Linked DNA regions of Homo sapiens. The protein of the gene in region 2 purifies or fractionates together with the protein of the main gene of each other region. This does not show direct contact. Each region holds a gene or a part of one and is shown on either strand. Other genes may lie near its edges.

Region 1 (4,891 bases), on a different chromosome or scaffold from region 2:
AGAATTAGTCAAATCAGATCATTCTATCTGGAGTTTTTGTCAAACAACACTAATGAGTTTATTTAAAGAAAAAGACATTACCTGACAGTTGTATTGTTCTCTTCTTATGGTGGTGCTCTTGAAGGGAGGTGTCTCAAATACTTCCTCTTTTCCTTTCATTTATATTTTTAACTTTTACTTCTCTTCTTATTATACCCTTTAGGCTTTATTGGCCCTTTATAGGGACCCTACTTTGTGTACTAATTATGACAAATGCTGATATAACATCTGCTCCCAGATTTAAATTGCCTTCCAGTCTGTCAGAGTTCATCTTGAAGTCAGCTTTGCTGTAAACATCAGCCTGCCTGTTAATGCAGCCTGTGGGAGACCTGAAGCCGGAGCCCACAGGAGCTACCTGAGATGAGGCCTGTGCAGCGAGCCTTGCTCTATCATGCATTAAACTGTGAAAGAGCAGTGGCTCCATGCACAAGTCAGCAAGCTCTGCATCTCCCGTTTTCCAAATCATCTCACCCTTGATCTTCCCAGAACAATCAGTTGTGCACATGCATTGCACCGCGAGCATTGGCTGGTTGAGTGTAGTCTACGATATATACTGGTGACCCTGTTTGATGCAATTCAAGTCCCTTTAAAGTTGATATTCTCAGGGTCCCTTCCCGCAGAAAAGTGGAAGTCAGGTCTCTCTTTGCCCCTCTGATAAAAATAATTACTAAGATTAAGATCTTCACTTTTCAGCAGTTGATTTTCATAACTTCTTACCAATACCTAATTTCAATTTCAGGATCGTTTCTTGAGAGGGTACCATGAGACCAGTAAGTTAGGGATATGGAACAAGAAAAAACATCTTGAGTTGAGAATACTTGCTTTCAAGTCTTCTCTCTAGATTACTAGCCTTGCTCACCTCTCCTGGCAATAGCTTCCTTACCAGGAAATGGGTAATACCAGAAGAAGATGTGATTCCAGGCCAAGTGTAAGGATAACATAAAGTTAGGTGCCTTAGGAAACTTTTGAAGGGGATGCAAATATTTATCTTGATTTAATGGTGGTTTCACATGGGTCAGCACTCATGAAGTTATACATTTAAAGAATGTACAGTTTATCTGGCCGGGCGCAGTGGCTCACACCTGTAATCCCAATACTTTGGGAGGCCAAGGGGGGTGGATCATTTGAGGTCAGGCATTTGAGACCAGCCTGGCCAACATGGTGAAACCCCGTCTCTACTAAAAATACAAAAAAATTAGCTGGGCATGGTGGCACATGCCTGTAGTCCCAGCTACTCAGGAGGCTGAGGCAGGAGAATTGCTTGAACCCAGGAGACAGAGGTTGTGGTGAGCTGAGATCGCGCCACTGCACTGCAGCCTGGGAGACAGAGCAAGACTCCGTCTCAAAAAAAAAAAAAAAAGTACAATTTATCATGCACCAGTTTTACTTCCATTAAGTGTAAAACATTGGATGTTAGAAGATTTTTAGAAACTAAGTTATTTTACAAGTGTTGTTGTTAGTAGTCCTCATTAATATTTTGAAGGAGAATTAACAAATTCTCGTTGAGTAGAATGTCTTCTTTCAGAAGGAAATTTCAGGTTGGCAATTCATAGAGGTAGCTAAATTCTACTTTCTCTTCTCAACTGTGGCATCGTCGACATTTGGGCCAGATAATTCTTTGTCCTGTGCTTTGGCATCCCTGGCCAGCATCCACCAGGTGCACTGCCTGTGCACCCCTATGTGACACTCAAAACTGCCACCAAACACTGCTGAACACTCTATGGGGCAGAACTGCCTCTTGTTGGGAACTACTGCTCCAGGCTTAGGCCATGTTGCTTTCACAAATTTTTTGTTGTTACTCAGAGTCCAGAATTATTATGTGTAATTCCTAAGACTGTGCCAGGGTTGTTTGGGTTTTTTAAGCACACTGAGACAATAATAAAGGTTTGGGTCTAACCCCTTCCCTCCAGCCCATTTTCTGTTACAGATGAGATTTGCCTGGCCTAAAATATATTAACTATTCTTGTGTGCCCTCTTTTCCTTGAACACATCCCTCCAGCTCCCACATCTGATTTTATCCCCAGTTCCCAGAGCCTAGTCTCACATATGCTTTGCTTTCTCAGTGCCAAAAACGGCAGATAATGTTGCAACAAACATGCAGCAGGGGTCTGGAGCAAGTAATTGTAGTAAGGATTCCTTTTTGTTGATGATTATAGGACATGCAAAAAGATCTGTAAATATCAGTACTTGGAACTGACCCTCTTGTCCTCAGTATTGCTTTCCCTTTATTTTATAAGAAGGATTCAAAACAGATACTGACTGTGCAATTTTAAAATACCAGTAAGCAGCACATTTAACCTTGTACAGATGGCCGGCCTTTTTTTTTTGTTTTTTTTTTTTAATCATCTTTCTATTTAATGAGTAACTGGGAGCGGGGAGGAAATGACTTTTTTAAATAAGAGATTAACTAGTGACACTGTGGCTGAGAGGCAGATCCCCTGTGCCTGGCACCCTTGACATTTTCCTAGGCATTGTCTGCTGTAGATCTGAGACAGTGCTGCCCAGAATCAGTGCTGAGCCAAAGATATTTCTTCTGTGCATATGTATTTTGTGACTCCGTCTTCTCTGGTTGGTCTGATGATAGGTGGGACAGTGGAGGGCATTCCTCACGTGCTGGTTTTAATGACAATGATAGCACTTTCCAGGTGGGTGGGAAGTTGTTTCTGGAAATTTTTTCTCTTCTTGACACCATCCAACAGTACCTTGACCGTATTCTGATTGATTGATTGATTGATTGATTGATTGATTGATTGAGACAGGGTCTTGCTTTATCACCCAGGCAGGAGTGCAGTGGCACCATCACAGCTCACTGCAGCCTCTACCTCCTGGGCTCAAGTGATCCTCCTGCCTCAGTGCACCACCCTGTCCAGCTAATTTCTTTATTTTTTGTAGAGATGAGGTTTCTCCATGTTGCCTGGACTGGTCTCAAACTCCTGAGCTCAAGCGATCCCACCCGCCTTGACCTCCCAATTGACCATGTTCTTAACTCTTGTCTCTTCCACAGAAATACCTCAGGGACTTTTTCAGCGTGATGCTCCAGTCCGCAACATCTCCCCTCCACATCAACAAAGTGGGACTGACTCTCTCGAAACATACCATTTGTGAGTTTTCACCATTCTTCAAGAAAGGAGTCTTTGACTACAGCAGCCACGGGACGGGGTAGAGCCAGGGGTGATGGAGGAACCACCACAGCAGTGCCTTCTCGTCGAAGCGGGCTCCGATGCAGGGCAGCTCCCCCATGCGAGGATCCGGGTCTGCCTCCTCCTGCTGAAGACAGACATGCAGCAGCGGGCCCGGGCCACCTCACGTTTCCATACCTAGTGCCTGAGTTTGGGGATGGGATGCTCTGCCTGCTGATGTGGCCCTGACAGGCAGCCGTTACCGTTCCATTGCGGTTGAACGTGGCCTTTTCCCACAGTGCTTCCTTCTCACTGCGCAGCAAAGTTCGTCCCCTGTGGCAAGATAGATGTGGTTGGGCCATCGTGGGTTCCCTGAGCCCAGCCAGCCTGGGACCTCCCAAAGTGGGTGGCTTACCAGACCACCCTTAAATGACTTTCATCTGGTTTCCTCTTTCACCAAAATATACTCGTATTTTTTATATTTCTTCCATGTGGCTGGCTATATTCCAAGAAAAGCATTTTAAATTATTTCATTGTATTTTTTTCTTTTTTTCCCTCATTTGAATCAGAACTTTTATATAAAACCCAAACACTGATGTTTACACAGAATTTCATATTCTGCAAAAGGGATTTTTTGATCCAATCATGACTGTAGTCTTCCATGCTTGACAAATTGGATGTAGACAACATTACTTAAAACTTCTATAAATCCCTACAATTAGGATATTTATTTAACCTTGAATATTCAAGAACATTCTCCCAAATCTAAATGGCTACTGTGCATTCTTGAGCTTTTTCTGCTAAGCACAAAATGAACGCAAAGCTAAATGCATATTTTTAAGTATTATTCACATTTTTTGTTACAGAATCTATTGGATCTTTGGCTGGAAAACTAGAATTTATAGCAGTTTATTAATGATACCTTAAATTACTCAGGACTTAATGTAGCATTGCACTTCTGTGTACAGTAAAACTGCTTTGTTTTACTAAAGAGAAAAATGTGAGTGGAAAAAATATGTATGTGGTATATACTCAAATGTATATAATTCTATCTATAGATTTATATATGTATACATTCTGTACAGTAGTTCCATCAAAATATGTAATAATTCACACCAATTTTATTAAATGTATTTGCTTTTTCAAAATTTAAATTGAGCTGCTATCAATATTAAATGAAGTTATGGCATCTACCCTGTAGCTCAGCTTATTTTAAGTCTGTAACATGATCATTCATACTAGTCTGTTTAAACATTGATCTAATGTTCTTGGAAATATGCATAATGTATAACTCAGCATTTGTGTTGCAGAAGATGCAGTGATAGTAATGATTGAAGTCGTAAATGAATGGTTAACAGAACATGTTTGCATTCCATCTTCTAGAGAATGCCTTCACAACAAAGTTCTCCAACCTGAAAAATATGCATAAACGTGCAATTATCCCTATAAGGAGGAAAACTAGTATTGCACTAATTAAATATCATAGTATAGTGTGAAAAAAAATGAGGACATTTTTGCTGCAGAAGGACCTGCTTTTGTCTGCAGTTGTGATTACAGGAATAGGTTTAGGAGCAATTACTACCAGAGAATTTCAAACTAGAGATTAAGGGATAAGAGCTGGGTAGATAATAATTAACCATAGGTCATTTATTTAAGAGGAGTCTTAAGCCCTAAAGATGGTCCCTCATTTGCTGAGTAAACTAAGTGGTTTCTCTTCAAACTGACCAGATAAT
Region 2 (7,000 bases):
AGGCTGCTCACTATTGCCATAGTACACTAAAACGCCAGCTTGAGCACAATGCCTACCATCCTATAGAGTGGGCTATCAATGCTGCTACCTTGTCACAGTTTTACATCAATAAGGTAAGCTTCTTGAAGTAGTTATCTAACAGAGTACCAATAGTGAGTATAAAAATAGAACCAGTAGTACCTTGAAAATACTATCTTTTAAAAACAGGTAGCTTGTATTTTATGATGTACAACTGAAGCCGAAAATGCAGCCCAGTTTGCCCGTGTACTAAAATTTTGTAGCTTTTTGTTGTATGAATTATTTTGAGTTTTAAAATACCGAGTTTTATCATTGTTTTACATGTTACCTAAGACCAATTCTTTTTTTAACATAGGCACGCTATCTCAACTCATTTTAGTGAGATATTACCTTAAATTGCAGATTTTACCTTGTAGATATAGCTTTATCTTTACGTAATGGTAATCTCATAACTCTGAGAATTTGACTGAGGAAGTTGACTGTTAAATGTGGGCTTTGATAAAAGCATGTGATGCATTTCAGTTATTTTTCAGAATTAACTCTGTAATAATTTTTTAATGTTGGAAATATGTCTGCTGAGTTCCAAAGTTCTAGGTCTTTATACCATACTTCTTTTGGATTGTTACACAGGGACAATGTTTTTGAGCTTCTTAGTTGTTTATCAGAATTTCTCATAAAAATTTAAAAAAGCATTGCTCACATCATGTTGGTGTACTCTTAATTGACCCATTTATTCCTTTAATCCTTGAGAGTTTTTAATGCTAAAATAATTTTACACCACCTTTTCTAACCAGATTTTCCTATTAATCCTTAATAAGACATCTCAGCAATATAAATTACTTTTATTTATATTTCGAATTCGCAAGCCTCTCTGAAATTTTGGTAGTTCTCTGCTTATCAGAGTTCCTTCTTTCATCTCTCTGGTAACCCGCTGCCTTATCCTTGGGCCTTTATCCTTTTTGAGCATTTCGTTAGCGTTGGTTCTGTAAATGCGCCCGATGATTAAAGTATTGTCCCACAGAATTTCATTCAGAAAAGCTATTAGCAGGAGAGAAAGGGCTGTGGTGACTGCAGCATCGCTTCTAGGACTTTGGTCTAAGATCAAGTGTGTAAGTAACGCTACTGCATATATCAGAGCATTCAGTTAACTAATTCTCATGAATCCATTTCATTGTCCTCATCCAAAGTGTTATCCAGTGCCTCCGCTTGTGACATCTTTTTTACAGCTGTTGGAGGCCCCTTATTCATTCTGTTTAGCAACTTTAAAATTACATATTCACTGTGACTTTAATTTATACTTAAAACTCCATGGAAATTGGCAGTACTAAGATATCTAGATATTAAAGTGTGATTAAAATTTAAAGTTGTTAAGCATTACTTATGTGGAGCATGCAGTAATTTTCATGAGACCTCCCACACCCTGCACTTTTATTTTTTTACCAAAATCTTTTTTAAGTTTTTGTTAAAACCAACTAAGTCGTATTGCAAAAAGAGGGATTTGAACCATGTTTTTAAAAATGCAATTGTCATTTATATCATTGTCATCTTCATCTGATTCCAGTGATGAGGTTTTGCTACTTGGTGAATCCCTACCTGGCAGCTGCTAAAGTCCCACATTTACCAGCCACCTAGAGGGCATAAGACACTCACTGTTCTAGCAGTGGTTGCTCACAGGGAGCCAATCTGGACAAAGCTGAAATGACGATAAATGTTAAGGGATTGGATTATAGAGAGATAATTAAAGTTTCATTATATAAACTCTAACTTTCTTTTGGCTTTTAAGATTTAACACATTTTTATCTATAGATGTTGCTGGGCTAATACTACACGTGTCCAGCTATTCTCAAGATGGCTTCTGAATTTGCCATAATGGAAAGATACATTTAATGCTGCAATTTTAAAGTTATAGCCAACCATTTAAAGCCTTTCAGGTATTACTAATATTAAGTAGACATTCTATTTAATGAGGGTGGCTTCCAACTAAAAGTTGGACTTTAACTTTGAACTTCTGCTGGGTGGTCCTTTGACTTACATGACAAATACAAAATGTTTCTATTAACAAGGAGATCTTCTCTAATTGTTTGAGAAGTTTGCCATGCCCGGAATTGAATTATGAAGTCTTCAAGAGTGTTGGTAAAGCAGTTCCATAAGGTTCATCTGTAGAAGTCTGTTGACTTTAAAACTTGGTGGGAAGCCTTATTGTATGTAAAGTTTAAAGATTTTAGAACACAGGAATATCTTCTTACCTGAGTTTATCCTATTTGCCTTTGTATAGTAGGATGTAAAGGGGCTCTCTAAACCTAATAAAAATTAAATCCTCAGGCTGGGCAAGGTGGCTTACATCTATAACCCCAGCACCCTGGGAGGCCAAGGTGGGAGCATTGCTTCAGGCCAGGAGTTGGAGACCTGTTTAGGCAACATAGAGAAACCCCAGAATTAGTCAGGCTTGGAGGCTAAAGGTGGGAGGATCCCTTAAGACCAGGAGGTTGAGGCTGCAGTGAACTATGATTGTGCCACTGCACTCCAGCCTTGGGCCAGAGTGAGACCCCTGTCTCGTAAAAAAAAAAAAAAATATATATATATATATATATATATATATTCAGTCTTCTGACACAATGTAAATAGTCTAAGAATTTATTGTGCATGGGATTTTGGCTACTTAGACTGAACCTAAAGGAGTTTTTGAGACAGTTTAAGTCTAGGATGACAGCCATTCCTGTATATCTATTGATTGTATAAGGAGAGCTAACTTTCAGTTGGCAGTTGTCTTTCAATCCGAGTGGATTATTATTAAGAGTTTGGGGGCATTAATATTTTAACCTTTGAGGTTACATTTTAACCAGATAATATGATAATATATCTTTTGTACCTTCTGAATGATCTGCAACTCTACAGGGCCTCCTTTGTAGTATTTTTATCTGATTTTATACCTTTTCCCATATTAAAAGAAATTATGCAAGTATCAGTTGCAAATAAAGCTGTGTGATAGTTGCATTCACTGTTGTTTATTTCCCCAATAGCTATGCTTTATGGAGGCCAGGCACTGTTTATCAGCTGCTAATGTCATTTTTGGTCAAACTGGAAAGATCTCAGCCACAGAAGACAGTAAGTTTACCTTTGCATGTTTTACATAGCTTTTAAAAAAAGTTTTATTTTGAAATTATTTTAAACTTTTGAAAAGTTGCAAGAACAGAAGAGCTATCATATGCCCTTCTAAATGCACCAATTTTTAGTATTTTCCTCGCTTGGAATCAAATTTTATTTTTCTCTCTGAACCATTGGAGAGAAGGTTACATACATTAGGCTCTTTTACCCTTTCATACTTTAGTATATATTTCCTAAGAAGAATATTTTCTTACATAATCATAGATCATTTATCAAATTCAAGAAATGTAACATTGGCCAGGCATGGTGGCCCACGCCTGTAATGCTAGATTTTGGGAGGCCAAGATGGGAGGGGCCAGGAGTTCAAGACAAGCCTGATCAACATAGTGAGACCCCATCTCTATGTTTTTAAAGAAATTAAAAAAAAAAAAGTAACATTGATACAATTCTTTTATCTACACTGCATATTTCTATTTCATCAGTTGTTGCCATAATATTCCTTCTAGCATTTGTTTGCCAGTACTGGATTATACAGTTCAAGATTGCATAATGCATTCAGTTGTCACATCTCTTCAGGCATTTTTCGTCTGGAATTGTTCCTCAGCCTTTCTTTCCCTTTCATCACTTAATATTAAGAATATAGGCCAGTTATTTCATAGAATTACTGCCAGCTGGGGTTTGTGTGATGTTTCCTTATGCCATGATTCAGATGATATATTTTTGGTTGGAATACTACATGCATAAGCGATGTTGCCAAATACCCATCTTTTTAAGTATAGTGTTTCCTTTAGTCTTAGAAAATCACAGTTAACATGTGTCTTTGAGTCATTTAACAGGTTTTTTAATAAGTTCATCATTTTCTTTAAAAATAGTTTATTTTTAAAAATAGTTTGATTCTATTGCTCACTGTTGAACAGTTTCCAACCTTCTTACGATGTTTTAGATTTTGAAACATCATGTCTTCCTTACAAATGGACATTCTAATTGTGGATCTGAAAAATGCAGAGACTCTTAAGAGCTAAAGGAATGTACATTATCAAAGTAAATAGTTGCTTTCTCCCCTAATATATTAACTACATTAATTATAGATTAGTTGAAGTCTAAGAGGCACTTGTCTCAAAAAATGAATAAAAACTAAATTGCTGAGATATTATTTAATAATTCACTTTATTTAAAGTAATATCGTGAGATATTATTTTGTTTTTACTCTTCATAATAGCTGAAAAAATGACAGTGACCAGTGTTTTCAAAATGTTCTTATTGAGCATTCTCATATATTGTTGGTTGGCATATTTGTTGAAAATAATTTGGCTGTATGTTGTGAATTATTTAAAATTGTGTAAACTCTTTTACTCAGTAAATTCCACTTCTAGGAATCTGCCCTAAGGAAGAAATCCAAAATCCAGACAGATTTTTGCACAATTATACTCATGTTTCAAGTTTAAAAAAAATGTGTGTATGTGTATAAACTTTACAAAGCTTTGTGTTGACAGCTGACTTTGTAGATTACAGCAAGAAAGCTGCTCTGCTATGTATGACACTCTGACCCAGAAGCAGGTCATCTGAATAGTTTAGCACCAGGTTCTCCACAACCATCTGTTGTGTGACATAGACGTTTTTGTGATAGTAAAGAATTGGAAACAACAAATTCCAGGTTAGAATTAGAAGAATGGTTAAATAATAGAATATCTATTTAATTGTATATAATGGTGTACTTAAAAATGAAGCTAAGAGTTGATAATGATATGAGTAAAGTGTTTGTGGTGCGAGAAAGAAATATGCAAAAATAATAGTGAGTGCTTCTGGGTAGTAGGATTTGGGGGGGGATCTTTCTTCCCTTTTCCCCAAGCCCCCTGCTTCAGTAAAGATCTGTTACTTTTATAGTCAGGAAAAAGTGATATTAAAAAAATTACAGTACCCAATGAAAATTACAGTTGTGACCATTAACTTAAACAAATCACATGTATATTTTAGCTCCTGAAGCTGAAGGAGAAGTGCCAGAGCTTTATCATCAAAGAAAGGGGGAAATAGCAAGGTGCTGGATCAAATACTGTTTGACTCTCATGCAGAATGCCCAACTCTCCATGCAGGTAATGCAGTCAGAAGCTGCCTTTTTCTTTCTTAAATGAGGAAATTGTAAGTAAAAACTCATAGTGGGGATTGTGCTCATTGGGGTCACATTGTGTTTAATATGAAAGGTGTGTAGAATGTTTTCGTAAATATTTCTTTCTTGGTTTTAAATCGTATTCTTCGAATTGCTTGAATCCGGGAGGCAGAGGCTGCGTGAGCCGAGATTGGACCACTGCACTCCAGCCTGGGCAACAGAGCGAGACTCCATCTCTAAATAAATAAATAAATAAAATAAATCTTACTCATCATTCAAGGCCTATCTTAAATACTACCTCTTCCTTGAAGACTTTTCTTTGGTTAGAATATAAGCTTCTTGAGAGCTGGGAACGATATCATATTCTTTTTTTTTTTTTTTTTAGACAGGCTCTCGCTCTGTTTCCCAGGCTGGAGTGTGGTGGCGTGATCATGGGTCACTGCAACCTTGGTCTCCCCGGCTCATGCAGTCCTCCCACCTCATCCTTGGAGTACAGGCGTGTGCCACCATATCCAGTTAATTTTTAAATTATTTTGTAGAGACTGGCTCTCACTGTGTTGCCAAGGCTGGTCTTGAACTCCTGGGCTCAAGTGATCTTCCTGCCTTGGCCTCCCAAAGTGCTGGGATTACAGGTGTGAGCCACTGTGCCTAATCTTTTTTTTTTTTTTTTTTTTTTTTTTTTTGAGACGGAGTTTTGCTCTGTCGCCCGTGCTGGAGTGCAGTGGTGTGATCGCAGCTGCAACCTCTGCTTCCTGGGTTCAAAGGATTCTCCTGCCTCAGCCTCCTGAGTAGCTGGGATTACAGGTGCCTGCCACCATGCCTGGCTAATTTTTGTCTTTTTAGTGTAGATGGGGTTTCACCATTTTGGCCAAGCTGGTCTCGAACTCCTGACCTCAAGTGATCCATCCATCTCGGCCTCCCAAAGTGCTGGGATTACAGGTGTGAGCAACCACACCTGGCCAAGCCCTTACTAATCTTTATATACTTCCCAGTGTTATCTTACACACAGCATGGACTTGATAAAATCTAAAAGGGTAGACTTTTAAGAAATAGCTCATGTAATAGTTCAAAAATAGAAGCAGAACTGATGGCAGTGAAGAGCATGGACTTGAAATACACTAGGTAGGTATGAACTCCAGCTCTGCCGCTTCGTAGCTATGTCTTTGTGGCAATTTACTTAATATATTTTTGCCTCTATTTCCTCACAAGTAAGTTGGAGATAATAGTACTTAATACTGTTGTTATGGGAGTTAAGTCAGTATATATTAAGGCCTCGGAAAAGTGCCTGAGACATACTAAGTCCTTAATAAATGTTAACTACCATCATCATTATTAATTTATGCCCAATCCTAGTTTCTAAGCACTAGGGAGGATAATAAAATTAATCATTTAGATGCAATATACTAAGTGTAGATACATAGGAAGATTTCCTGGGGGATTCATTGTGCTTTTATTTTTTTATATTGTGTATTAAAGTATGATAATTTTTTTTTTTTACATGGGACTCTGCTTGATAAAAGTATAATAATCTTTAGTGGTTGTATTAGTCTGTTCTCACACTGCTATAAAGAACTACTTGAGGCCAGGTACAGCGCCTCATGCCTATAATCCCAGCACTTTGGGAGGCCAAGGTGGGTGGATCACTTGAGCCCATGAGTTTGAGACCAGCCTAGACAACATGTTGAAACCCTGTCTCTACCAAAAATACAAAAAATTAGCCAGGCATGGTGGTGTGCACCTATAGTCCCAGCTACTGGGGAGGCTGAGGCAGGA
Region 3 (7,046 bases), on a different chromosome or scaffold from region 2:
AAACTACACAGGCCTCTCTTAACCACAAATTGAGATGCCAAGCACAAAGAACCTGCTCATTAATATCAGGGTGGAAGTAACCACAAAGATAGTTGAGAAAAGCAGCAGACCACTACTACAGGCATTAGGTAAAAGATTTTTATTCTTATTTAACCATGCTGCATGTATACATACAATACCAATATATACAACTTGAACAAATACAATTTATACATAAAATACAATGAAAGCATGGCTTTTGAAACTGATGCAACAAACTGTAATTTGTAATTTTGGCCAGCATACAGTATTATAGTAATGCTACTGAAGTTATTCATTAAATTAGTCAGACTACAGTATAAGTTCAAAGGCACTAGAAACATCTATGTTTTCTTCTAGTATTTTTAAGAACAAAAAATAATTTAAAATAAAACAAATGTATACATTAGGAAATTGGGCAGACATTGGTGTACTTAAATGTAAACGCTACCCATTCCTTAATTCACAGCCCTGTAGGAAAGAAGACTTTCCTTAAGAGTTAAGGGGAAGGATATTAAAAACAGACTAAAAGGAAACAAACAAAACAAAAAACAACCAAAAACCATAATCATAGTTTTAAAAACATGTTACAGAGGAAGTAGCACCACCCCCTCCCCCAATAAAACCTTAAATTTTTGCTGTAAAAAGAAAAAAAAAACAACTCCCTTTCTCCAGAAAGGAAATGAAATGGCTTGTCAAATGGATTCTATTCATGGGGCAAACATGGAGATGCGACCCTTCCCTTGATTACTCATCTCATGCTTTATAAGAATCTAAACACAAATAGGAAACACGATGATAATTTTAACATCCTATTAGTATATGTAATTGTAAGGATTATTAAAGAAGATACTATAAACCAATAATTCTACCAATGCTCCTTTTAATAAATAAATATCACTTTTTAAATTAAAGGGAAAAGAGAATACCCATTCAATAACCTATTTATATATATGTGCCACTCATTTTAAATCTGCATATTTATTTCAAAAAATGAGCAAGTGTGTTCATCTATATCGTCTCACGAAATTAACACTGACCTTACAACATATTTCATTTGTGGACAAAGACACAGTAAATGTGAGGAAACTACAGAATTGCTATGACTGGAGCTAAATGAATAGCTCTGAAGTCAGTGTCCCATATTTGCATATAGATATTCAGACCAGGCTTGAGGCCAGGCGTGGTGGCTCACACCTGTAATCCCAGCACTTTGGGAGGCTGAGGCGGGCGGATCACAAAGTCAGGTGAGACCAGCCTGGCCAACATGGTGAAACCCGGTCTCTACTAAAAAAAAAATACAAAAATTAGCTGGGTGTGGTGGCGCAAACCTGTAATCCCAGCTACTCAAGAGGCTGAGGCAGGAGAATCCCTTGAACCCAGGAGGCAGAGGTTGCAGTGAGCCGAGATCGCGCCACTGCACTCCAGCCTGGGCGACAGAGTAAGACTCCGTCTCAAAAAAAAAAAAAAGATATTCAGGCCAGGCTTATGTATCAAATTTTGGTATTTCTGAGATGGATATTTAATGTCCATCTGGTATAATCAGTTTTAACATAATGCTTTTTTTAAAAAACTGCTATAGTAGGCGGGGTGTGGTGGCTCAGGCCTATAATCATGCCTGTAATCCCAGCACTTCGGGAGCCTGAGGCGGGTGGATCACTTAAGCTCTAGGAGTTCAAGACAGGCCCGGGCAACATGGCAAAACCCCATCTCTACAAAAAAATACAAAAATTAGCCGAGCATGATGGCATACAGCTGTAGTTCCAGCAACTCAGGAGGCTGAAGAGACAGAGGTTACAGTGAGCCGAGATTGTCCCACTGCACTCCAGCCTAGGTAATAGAGCCAGACTCCGTCTCCAAACAAAAAACAAACACCCCTGCTATAGTAGCCTGCTTTTAGAACTTCTCAATTGACTTTTTATAGATCGGCTTTTTATTTTGACTTTTTATAGATTTATTTTTATTATCATGGTAGGGTGGGATAGAAAAAATATCTAACATACTGGCTTAAATTTCCATGTTTTAAAGCTTGATTTAAAAGTTACTCCTTTCCTATTAACTGAATTGTTAAAGGTTAGAAACATGAACTTTTAAAAAGAAGCGTTTTTTTTAAACTGGTAAAATTAAGATTTCTTTAGAGTAATTACTAACAGAGTTAAATGTGTATCATCAAAAACATTTTATAATTACCAAAATATTCTGATCACACAAAGCTTTTACAAGACACATATTTACCTCAACTCTTCACAGTATCTAAACAATGCCCCACAGAGTTAAGTAATAAATTTCTAGCTATCTTACATACCACAAACAAATGCAGCCAGTGAAATGCAATTCTAATCACCTAGAAAATGTTCACCACACACAGGACATTCAGTATTCCAATTACAGAATGGACTTTAAATTTATGGGTACATTTTTATCGCCACCTCAAGAGTACTCCACCTTCACTCACCCCTACTCTATACACAGCTTTGTCATTTAAACTAGGATTTAACAAAACTTATTAAAATAATATTAATTTAATAAATACTAACTTATAAAGTCTCAAAATATTTTCAACCAATGTGTTTCAGGGCTGATTACATAATTTTGAAAACCACAAAACATATATTAAGTGGTTTAGGAGTAGCATAACTTTATTTTTATTTTATTTTTATTTTTTGAGGTGGAGTGTCACCCTGTCACCCAGGCTGGAGTGCAGTGATGCCATCTCAGCTCACTGCAACCTCCGCCTCCCAGGTTCAAGTGATTCTCCTGCCTCAGCCTCCCAAGTAGCTGGGATTACAGGTGTGCGCCACCACACCCAGCTAATTATTGTATTTGTACTGGAGACAGGGTTTCACCATGTTAGCCAGGCTGGTCTCGAACTCCTGACATCAAGTGATCCACGTGCCTCGGCCTCCCAAAGTGCTGGGATTACAGGCGTGAGCCACCATGCCCGGCCAGGAGTAGCATAACTTTAAAAAAATACAATAAAAGTTTCATAAGCAGCTAACAACAGAAAAAAATAATTATCTCTATTACAACTTACTTTACTATGAAATCAACATAGTTTTTATTTGTAGAGGAATATGGTCTAACTGGATTACCCAATAGAAGAAATTCAGAAAATAATATTTTATTTTTAAAATAGAAAAACAAAATAAAAAAGTGTTTTAAAGGCAAAGTATTTAAAAGATATTTTTCTTGCTTAGCTGTATTTTCTGGAAAATGGAGACTCTTCTTAACTGGGAGACATAAAGTAATTCCCACCAAAATTTAGAACTCAAAGAAAAGCATCCATAACACTTCAGAGTGAATTTTTAAAAATATACACGCAGGCAAAGATAACTGAGCAGTATTTAGCTTCTTAATTTTCCGCAACAGTAGATCCTTTATATTTACGTACAATTCAATGTTTCAAGAGAACATGAAACCAGAACTTAAGGTGTATTTGATTTGAACTCAAACTGGCAAAAAAAAGTTAGGAAAGGTTCAGATGAAACATTTTCAACTTGTTAAAAAACATGTATACTCGCAAAGACTGTTAAATTATAACATTTTCTACAAAACATTCATAAGATCAGTCATCTCATACTTAAAATGCAACAAATGTTAGACAATTAGAATGTGTTCAAACAGGCTGGGTGGGTGTTAGGACGGAATCATTCTTTAGATGTACAGTCCAAACATTCATATATAACAGCGCAACATAGGACAATCTGATCTGCTTCTTTCTATGTGCAAAACAGGACACAGTTTTTTTTTTTCTATTTTGAAATTCTAGTTACCTAAATATACAGTAGTTGGATAAATAGCTAATCGATTTACACATACATCTAAACTGTAACTCTCTATAGTATGAACTGTTCCCCCAACTTCCCTGCACAGTACAATTGAAGAGTAGTAGTACAACAATTTGAACAATCACCAGTTGTACAATTTTAATGTTATATTAATATATGTAGACTAAAAGTTCTTAAGCAAATTATTATTTCCAGTCTTATTCATTGATCTACAACTTCCATTAATTGAAATTATAGAGAAGTCTTCACTGTTTTAATTAAAGATTTTGTCCAGGCATGAGAATATCACTAATTTTTATTGTGACTTTAAGTCTGTAACATTTACTGCAGTAAAGAGTCAATTACAGTTTCAGGCTTTGCAGAACGCTTTCTGTTTGGAGAAGAAAAAAAGCAATCATGAATGCTTTCCTAAAAGACTGAAATGCAAACATTTAACATTATATAGAAACTATGGGGTGGCCTGTATAGTCTGGAAACAAGCCAAAATTTGACACGTTTGACCATGGTAAGTGTTCAATTAATGCTCGCCTTTTCAGGCTACGGGAAGCTAACTTAAAGTAAATGCAAGAGGATGGCAGCCCACCCCATTATGCCAGATAGTGAAGGATAGGACAGGTGATAATTTCCAAGACTAGACTAGGTCATGTGGCCAGGCCAAGTGAGCTGCATGCTTGCCAGATTTGAACTTCCTGATTATCTCTTCTGAGGTACTCAAAAGGTGCAAGTGGATTCAGAGGAAATCAGAAACAAATCATCTCAGGCAATACCTGATGCATATGTAGGGACTTATGGAAATGCTACATTAATGTATTATATTTATTGCAATTTTGCCTAGCCCATCTAACTATGTGTTTCTAACAAGGAACATCACATTGAACATATCATATAATGTAACATAGCATCAATAAACCATTTAATGCATGTATTTGTCCATGTTTATGGCTACCATTTTCTTAGGGTTTCCATGGTTATAGCAGGCCAATTCCAGTATACAGAGATGGTGAGTTTGGCTCATATAATGTTGGGCCACACGATTTTTTTAATGTTAAACTAAAAAAATGACGTATCTTAAAATGGATGTTCTGGAAAACGTATTCAAATATCATATTATTTATTCATTTGCTTTAGGGTCCATATAGTTAAAAAAAAAAAAAGTAAAATTGACAGATCTCAAGTAAATAATTCGAATTTCTGGCTTTTCCTTAGAAAAGAGAAGATCCAGGCCAGGCACGGTGGCTCATGCCTGTAATCATAACACTCTGGGAGGCTGAGGTGGGCAGATCACCTGAAGTCAGGGGTTCGAGACCAGCCTGGCCAACAGGGCAAAACCCCATCTCTAGTAAAAATACTAAAATTAACTGGGCATGGTGGCAGGTGCCAGTAATCCCAGCTACTCAGGGCACTCCAGCCTGGGCAACAGAGTGAGACTCCATCTCAAAAAAAAGAAAAGAAAAGAAAACAGAAGATCCAGAAACAATGAGCCCTCTATTTCCATAGATAACTAGGAAGAGAATAGCAGCCACTCACTTTAGACAGGACTGCTCACCACTGCCAATTTTTCTCCTACGCTGGGGACAAATGTCTTACCATTTATCATCACACTTGCACTGTCATTTTATTAAAAATGGAAAAAAAGATACATCTAAAGGGACTCATGTTTCTTAGAACTGATTTGCTTCACTACAATATGCTTGGCATGTGTTGGTATAGGAAAGTTTTTAACCCCTCACCTAAATGCTAAAGAATGTAAAAATTTGTACATTTTTAATATTCAACTGTTTGCCCAACCCTGAGTTCAACCATCCCAAATTTATAAGTGTTAAGTCATGTCTATGAGATTATGTAACACAAAGATATCAAAACCGTACAACTTCATCCCACATGTAACTTGAAAGTCCATGCACTCAAAGTAGGGAAAAAAGCAGCTTATTATTTCCTACATTTTAGGAGCCCCAGAGTCTTAAAATCAGCTTAAATAAACTGAACAGTCCTTGATGTAGGAAAGGGAAAGGAAAAAAAAATAAGCTCCAGCCCAGGACTCCCATATCCCGATTTCCCTGAGCTTATGTGATGATACACGCAGACTACCCAACAGTCAAAACCAGTGCCCAAAGGAGAGGGGGAAATGTCCAAGGAAGTTCTCCTTAGCTGGTGACTGAGGAAATCAAGGTTCTTGGGGCACCTGACAGAAAAACTAACCAGCTGAATACAATACCTTGGGAGACCAAACAGGCAAATTAATTAGCATTTCATAAGAAGAATTAGTCTAAGAATTAAGGAATTAAACCCATTATACATTTGGAAATAACAGAGTGAATTAAAAATAAATTCTATTACTCAGAAGCCTAAGAAGTTGGAAGACCTTAATTCTTTGGCCAGATTTTATTTACTCAAATTCTAATACATAAGGAATTTGATTTTTTTTTTTTTTTTTTGAGACCAAGTCTTGCTCTGTCACCCAGGCTGAAGTTCAGTGGCATGATCTCATGATCTCGGCTAACTGCAACCTCCGGCTCCTGGGTTCAAGCGATTCTCATGCCTCAGCCTCCCCAGTAGCTGGGATTACAGGCATGCGCCACCATGCCTGGTTAACTTTTGTATTTTTAGTAGAGACAGCGTTTCACTATGTTAGCCAGGCTGGTCTCAAACTCCTGACCTCAAATGATCCACCTGCCTCGGCCTCCCAAAATGCTGGGATTACAGGCGTGAGCCACTGTGCCCAGCCAGGAATTTGATTTTTAATAAATCAGCCAAAATATGTATCATGTTTTAACTAAATAAATTTTAACTTCCTGTACATGTATCTAATTAGAATACCTCAATGCCTTCGTTTTACCAGATTCAAGGACAGTCCTTACCTTCTCCCTGTCTTTGGCCTTGCTTTCCCCTTTGAAGTTCGTGGTCTTTCTAGTTTCATCAAAGACTGACGCAGACTCTCCTCAGTATAGGCAAGATACACGTGAGAAAGGTCCACCTCAAAGGGCTAAGTAAAAGAAACAAACACAAAGCACTCTTAAGGCAAAGAGTTAAAGCCAGATTTGGGGGAAGATTTAAAATACTGAATAAACTCCTTGATCAAACCCACAGAAGCTAAAACCAAAGAAATGTCTAATGACATCATCTTCTAATCCCAGTATCTAAAATGTACTTAATAAAGGTTGGTGAGTAAGAAGCCCTGACACACTATAAATTTCCTTGGACATAAAAACTGTTGCTGTTTTTCTTAAAGCTGCCCCCTCT

The links. The genes of interacting proteins can lie anywhere in the genome.
Region 1: the proteins of KIFBP (region 2) and KIF16B purify together in Homo sapiens (affinity purification with mass spectrometry; 2 studies listed by BioGRID and IntAct, with this or other methods). This does not show direct contact.
Region 3: the proteins of KIFBP (region 2) and KIF3A purify together in Homo sapiens (affinity purification with mass spectrometry; 3 studies listed by BioGRID and IntAct, with this or other methods). This does not show direct contact.

What each region holds. Positions count from the first base shown.
Region 1 is NC_000020.11:16,271,564-16,276,454, reverse strand, and holds the end of KIF16B (kinesin-like protein KIF16B), read left to right. Parts: intron 1-3,043; coding exon 3,044-3,202; 3' UTR 3,203-4,351; downstream 4,352-4,891. UniProt on the Homo sapiens protein: Plus end-directed microtubule-dependent motor protein involved in endosome transport and receptor recycling and degradation.
Region 2 is NC_000010.11:69,005,803-69,012,802, forward strand, and holds part of KIFBP (KIF-binding protein), read left to right. Parts: coding exon 1-113; intron 114-1,095; exon of another isoform or gene 1,096-1,949; intron 1,950-3,038; coding exon 3,039-3,123; intron 3,124-5,097; coding exon 5,098-5,213; intron 5,214-7,000. UniProt on the Homo sapiens protein: Activator of KIF1B plus-end-directed microtubule motor activity. Required for organization of axonal microtubules, and axonal outgrowth and maintenance during peripheral and central nervous system development.
Region 3 is NC_000005.10:132,692,507-132,699,552, forward strand, and holds the end of KIF3A (kinesin-like protein KIF3A), read right to left. Parts: intron 6,790-7,046; coding exon 6,665-6,789; intron 4,177-6,664; coding exon 4,128-4,176; 3' UTR 125-4,127; downstream 1-124. UniProt on the Homo sapiens protein: Microtubule-based anterograde translocator for membranous organelles. Plus end-directed microtubule sliding activity in vitro. Plays a role in primary cilia formation. Plays a role in centriole cohesion and subdistal appendage organization and function.